Linked DNA regions of Homo sapiens: region 2 is linked to region 1. The links come from fine-mapping of genetic effects on gene expression. A gene starts in region 1. The other region holds a variant in brackets. All regions are shown on one strand. Distances are from middle to middle.

Evidence for each region.
Region 2: its variant is fine-mapped to the expression of SLC46A3 in whole blood (INTERVAL, PIP 0.90).

Annotation. Positions count from the first base shown.
Region 1 is chr13:28,717,512-28,720,425 of GRCh38, reverse strand. It overlaps SLC46A3 (solute carrier family 46 member 3), which reads left to right and starts at 1,456. Exons shown (of 6, transcript NM_181785.4): 1 at 1,456-1,930; 2 at 2,404-2,616. The coding sequence starts at 2,428.
Region 2 is chr13:28,751,397-28,754,310 of GRCh38, reverse strand. No RefSeq gene overlaps it. Among named protein-coding and RNA genes, the nearest start is that of SLC46A3, 34 kb to the right of the region's middle. RefSeq lists an enhancer at 222-967. The variant G/A (reference allele first, on the strand shown) is at 1,807.

The DNA.
Region 1 (2,914 bases):
AAAAAAAAAAAAAAGGACATCTTCTAAGTGCCGTTTAGAATAATATAGTACTTAGTACAAAGTACTGCAACTTAAAATATTATGTCTTCCTTGCAAACTGTATCTTACTCATGTTTGTTTATCTTCTTTCCAATATCCATGCTCCATTGTTTGAAACTCATAACAAGTGCTTCATAAATGCTGATTTGAAGAAGCTGGGAAGTAAGATTAAGTGGCAAGTCCAAGGTTACCAGCTACTAAGTATCAGTTAGGACTCAAACCTAAGACGTTTAACTCTGCATTCAGTGACACAACTGTCATTTAAGGAGTGCTGAGGAAGAGAAAGCAGCTCTGACATCCAGGTGCTGGAACTATCAGCTGGGCCTTGGTGTTGCTAAGAACTTTTCTGGACCATGGTGTTCTGTCGAATGAAAACAATTTCACGGAACACCAAAGTCAGACAAGAGCATTCTGTAACCATGATCAAGACAAAAACAAGACCACGTCATAATTTTGTCTGAACACGGACAAAATTTAGGCACTGTCTAAACCACAAAAATGACAAATATGTGTGACTGTTGCTTCTTTATCATTCATGGCTTTAGCCTCTGTCTAGTCTTGACTCCTAAATAAGACTTATTAAGATACCCAATCATAGAATTACTGCCATTTCCTGACAGCAACCAATCCAGAGTAAGGCCTTGCTTTCTTGAACTCTTCCCAAAATCACATAACGCAAGCCCATAGTAAATTCTAACACCTTCTTACTGAGATGCCCCCACGGTTCCTCATGCATGCATTTCTCCTGGCTTCAAGAAGTAGTAGCTCAATTCTTTTACTACAAGTTGTTCCTGGTGGGTGTGTTGGAGAGCACTGACAACTCCTCCTATGTCCAGGGGCTGTGTTGTGTATACATGCTGAGTGTTTAATTAGACAACCCTGTAAGACTTATCATCCCCACGTGGCAGATAAAGACATGGAGGTTCATGAAAATTTAACGATTTGCCCAAGTCCCCCCTCCCCTCCCCAGGAAAAGCCAGCGACCACATTCCAACCCTCCGCTAACTCTGCATTGAGCACTCTCTTTCCTATGCCCTCCACCTGCGCCCATTCCCCTCTTCTGCGGGCCGACCGGGATCCTGCTGGGGGCTACAGCCCAAACATGTTACTTTTCCAACTGTTGTTTTATGTGTTTCTATGAGAAAGGATATTCGGATTCAGAAATGCTTTGCAACTCCAGAGCTGTTGAGCCTGCGGCGCGGCCCACCACTCAACAGCGGTGCTGAGTGGCTGCTCGGTCGCGCGGGATCCACTCCGGGCCTCCGAGGGTGGGTGCACGATCCACTAGCCACTCTCCAGGGGAGAGTGACGTCCGGGTGGACCAATCGCCGCTGGGGCACCGACCGCTGGGCCCAATCGCAGGAGAGCCGGGTAGAACAGTGACAGCGCCGCGGCAGCCGACCCCGCCTCCTCGGCGGACAGCGATGCTCAGCTGGCTGCGGCCGAGTCATCGCCTAGCGCTGGCAGGGCCGCTGACCGACCGACGGAGGCGCCGATTGGCCGATTGTCCACTGCGCAGAAGGAGCAGCTGCTCCGCGCCCCGCCGCGCCGCGCTGAGGCCGAGGTCCGCAGGGCCGCGGGGAAGCCGAGGGCTGCCGGAGAACCCTGCAGGTGTCACTCGGGACGCGGAAGTGCGCTTGCCGAGGTTTGCTTTACAATACGCTTGAGACTCCCCGACAAGCGTAATTTGGTCGAGTTCGACGGGAAAGTACTCTCCCCACCCCAGCGCCGGCCGCGTAGTCCGAGGTTACTGTCCCCGGCGCGTCCTCTGTTGCCCCAGTCCAGAGGCTGCCCTTGAACCCGGGCGCGCACGAGCGCAGGGCATCCGAGGCGACAGCCCCTGGCACGGCCCGACCTGTACCCAGCCTGGCAGGAAGACTGTAATCGTGGGGTGAGTTAAAAATAAGGCCCTTTCGATTGGGAGCTGCTTTTTAAAACGCCCCCTCCCTGTCCGTTTTTAATACGCAGCAAAATAACAATAACAATTGTGCAACTGTCGCTTCCCAAAAGGAACCTCATTGTTGAACTTACGAAAAATCAGTTGGCAATATACAGTGTGGGAACTGTACTGTGATCATTGGCTAACCAAGATGGGTGACAGTTTATGATTTCAAAGACTCAAAGGCGGCTTGAGTCCTACAATGTCCTACTCATAAAAATGGAAAGCATGGCAGCCTCAGGTTGTTACAGAGTACTCTACTCCAAAGTAAAAGTTATTCTCTGAGAAAGTGCTTACTGCCTTTTCTGTTCTCTAGTTTGCTTGTTTAAACATTTACTCCACAAAATTGCTCAAACTTACCCATCTTTGAATATCTAGCCTCTGGGATGAGACAGATGATCTTTCTCCGTTTTCACTTTTTATAGAATACAGCTACCTACCCAGGCAATATGAAGATTTTATTTGTAGAACCTGCCATTTTCCTTAGTGCATTTGCTATGACTTTGACCGGTCCACTGACAACGCAATATGTTTATCGGAGAATATGGGAAGAAACTGGCAACTACACTTTTTCATCTGATAGCAATATTTCTGAGTGTGAAAAAAACAAAAGCAGCCCAATTTTTGCATTCCAGGAGGTAAGAAATTACAATATCCATAGTATTTAATAAAATGGGAATGTATACCGGGCTTTGAGTTAAAGAGGACCGTGAACTCATCATCCATTGGTCTCTCTAGGGCGGCCATCAAAGTCCTAAATCCCAAACCTAATGGCCTTTACTGGGAACTCACCTCATTTGAAGTTTCCTGACACCTTTCAAATCTGCCTCTTCTTCTTAAAACACCCTCCTGCTCTGTGACACTAGCTCTTCTCCTTTCTCTCGGAAAATTTCACCACAGTGTCATCTCTTCTGTGGCTGTCTCCTTGCTTTGTCC
Region 2 (2,914 bases), 34 kb before region 1:
CCAAGCAATTAGATTTTGCAGTGGGAGACAGAAATTGGGCTCAACTCTGAATACAGCATGAGCAAGTAGGAATGTATAGCCAAGGAGCAGGGTGGGGGTCGGTGGAGGGAAAATCACTAAGAGGGAACTTCAGGACTGAGAAAGACTTTAGCTAAACCAACAACAGGATTCTTGTTGAAGACAGGCCAGGAAACCAGACATCGCCTGGGGGCTGGTGGAGGGAGAAGAACCCAATCAGACATGAAGGTGATCAGATATTGTAGGTGGGGGATTCTTGCTTAACTGACTTAGCAGGGTTCTTTGCTAAAACTAGATTTTACAAGGAAGTGCATAGAAGGCCCTAGGAGAAGATTCCAGAGCCTGACTAAAGTTTGCCCAAGCAAATAATTTTTGCTGCAAACCGCCAGGCTTTCTTAGTAATCTTTATATTATTTGTCAAAAGCTTCAAAAAATTATTTCAACCAAGCGAGCCATTGCTAGTAACTGCTAAGGAGCTCTCTGCCCTGTCACCCGCCTTGCTTGTGGGTGGCAAGAGGTCCACATGGCCCACTGGTTCTACACTGTTTCTGCCAGCATGTGGCTGGCTTATAAACTACAGGCATGTGAGTACGCCAGGCAGTGACTCAGCACTTCCCTAACTGTAAAAGCCCAGAGGGAATATGCATTCCAATGTAGGAATGTCTGTGTCAATATCTGTAACATTCAGCATTTCTTTCTTTCGTCTTTCCTTTCCTTCTTTCCTTCCTCTTTCCTTCTTTCTTTCTCTTTCTTTCTTTCCTTTCTTTCCTTTCTTTTTCTCTCTTTCTTCCTTTTTTTCTCTTTCTTCCTTTTTCTTTTTTCTTTCTTTTTTTAGATAGGGTCTCTCTCTCTCTCTGGCCATCAATATTTTCTTTCTTTCTTTCCTTCTTTCCTTCTTTCTTTCTTTCTCTCTTTCTTTCTCTTTCTTTCTTTTCCTTCCTTCCTTCCTTCCTCCCTCCCTTCCTCCCTTCCTTCCTTCCTCCCTTCCTTCCTTTCTCTTTTTCTTTTTTCTTTCTTTTTTCAGATAGGGTCTCTCTCTCTCTGTGGCCCAGGGGCTGGAGTGCAGTGGCACCATCGTCACTCACTGAAGTCTCAAACTCCTGGACTCAAGCAATCCTCTGGCCTGAGCCTCCCAAGTAGCTGGAAACTACAGGTGTGCACCAACACACCCAGCTAACTTAAAAAAAATTTTTTTTTGGCCAGGTGTGGTGGCTCACGCCTGTAATCTTAGAACTTTGGGAGGCCAAGGTGGGTGGGTCACCTGAGGTCAGGAGTTCGAGACCAGCCTGACCAACATGGTGAAACCCCATCTCTACTAAAAATACAAAAAATTAGCTGGGCGTGGTGGCGGGCACCTGTAATGCCAGCTGCTAGGGAAGCTGGGGCAGGAGAATTGCTTGAACCGAGGAGGCAGAGGTTGCAGTGAGCTGAGATCGCACTATCGTACTCCAGCTTGGGTGACAGAGCGAGACTCCGTCTCAAAAAGAAGAAAAACAAATTTTAAAGATGGGGTCTTGCCCTGTTGTCTAGGCTTAGCATTATTTCTGAAGAAATATAGTGCTCATACTTTGAGAGAAGCACAATTAGTACTTACCTTGAACCAACAAATATGATTAAATGTTATAATAATTAAGAGATAAATAGAAATGCTGATTTCCTCATAATAAATAAATGTCCACATACTTTTTTTCAGAGACTTTTTCAATACAGGGAACTGAGATGAATGTAGAGTTTCTTGGAGGGTGAAAGAACAGTTAATAATGTCTGTTGAATTCTGAAACATTTGGC[G/A]ATTTCACAAAAGAGACTTTGTAGTGTCCTTGTGATAACTGTAAAATAAAGTAGGAAACAAACCTGAATAAATATATAGAAGAGAAAAACAAGTTACGGTAGGCTAAATATAAGATACAAGGTAATTCCTTTAAACTTTCAGTACAAAATATACCTCAGAACAAATAGAATGTACTGAGAACAGCCAAACAATCCTCATTTTAGATGTCAGAGCCATAGGATTTCTGGCACCCGGTCAGAATGCGCAGGAAAATGTTAGCATCTGAGAGATGGGTTATAAAGTGTTTGCAAGAACTAATGGAAGTCTCAAATTTATTTTGTCCCCGAAGAAGTTTGTTTTTTAGAGAATTTCTGGAAAATGACGTTAGGTCATTAGAAAAATAATAATTCCTGGGCGTTGCCCTGTTGACAGCCAACATAAATGCTGCATCTCCCTGGATCAAAGAAACTAGCCCTTCAAAGAAAAACTGGACAACATCAAGAATTAAATATTTCAAACTATGAGAGGAATACTTCCAAAAGAAGAGGAAAGTATAGGGTGTTTGGAAAGGAGGTGGCAGATTTCTTTAAATGCAGAGAATTTTTTAAATCATAATAATAAAATACCTGGTATCAACGGAGCATTTTGTATGTGCCAACACTATTTGCTAAGAGCTTTACACATGCAATTTCATTTTAGCCTCACAAAACTCCTCTGAAGGAAGTACTGGTATTGTCCCCATTGCCAGATGAGGAAACAGAAGCATAGAGAGGACATTTCCTTGCCTGAGGCCACAGATGTGGTCAGACAACATGGCCTGTACCGTCGGCTCTGCTCTGATGCCTTCTTTCTGGCCTATGCAGGGTACAATGCTTTTAACACTTGCAATGTCCCAAGCACCTTTCAAAGGACTTTACAGGTACTAACTCATTTAATGCACACAGCAATAGCCAATGAAAGATACACGATCAGCATCCCATTTTACAGATGAAGAAACTAATAGGCTGAGGGAGCTGTCCAAGATCACCCAGCTATGTGCCAGAGTGGGATTTGGACCTAGGCAATCTGAGCTCAGAAGCCAAAATCTGAATCATTTCACAATACCATATCTCATGCAGCAAGAAAGTT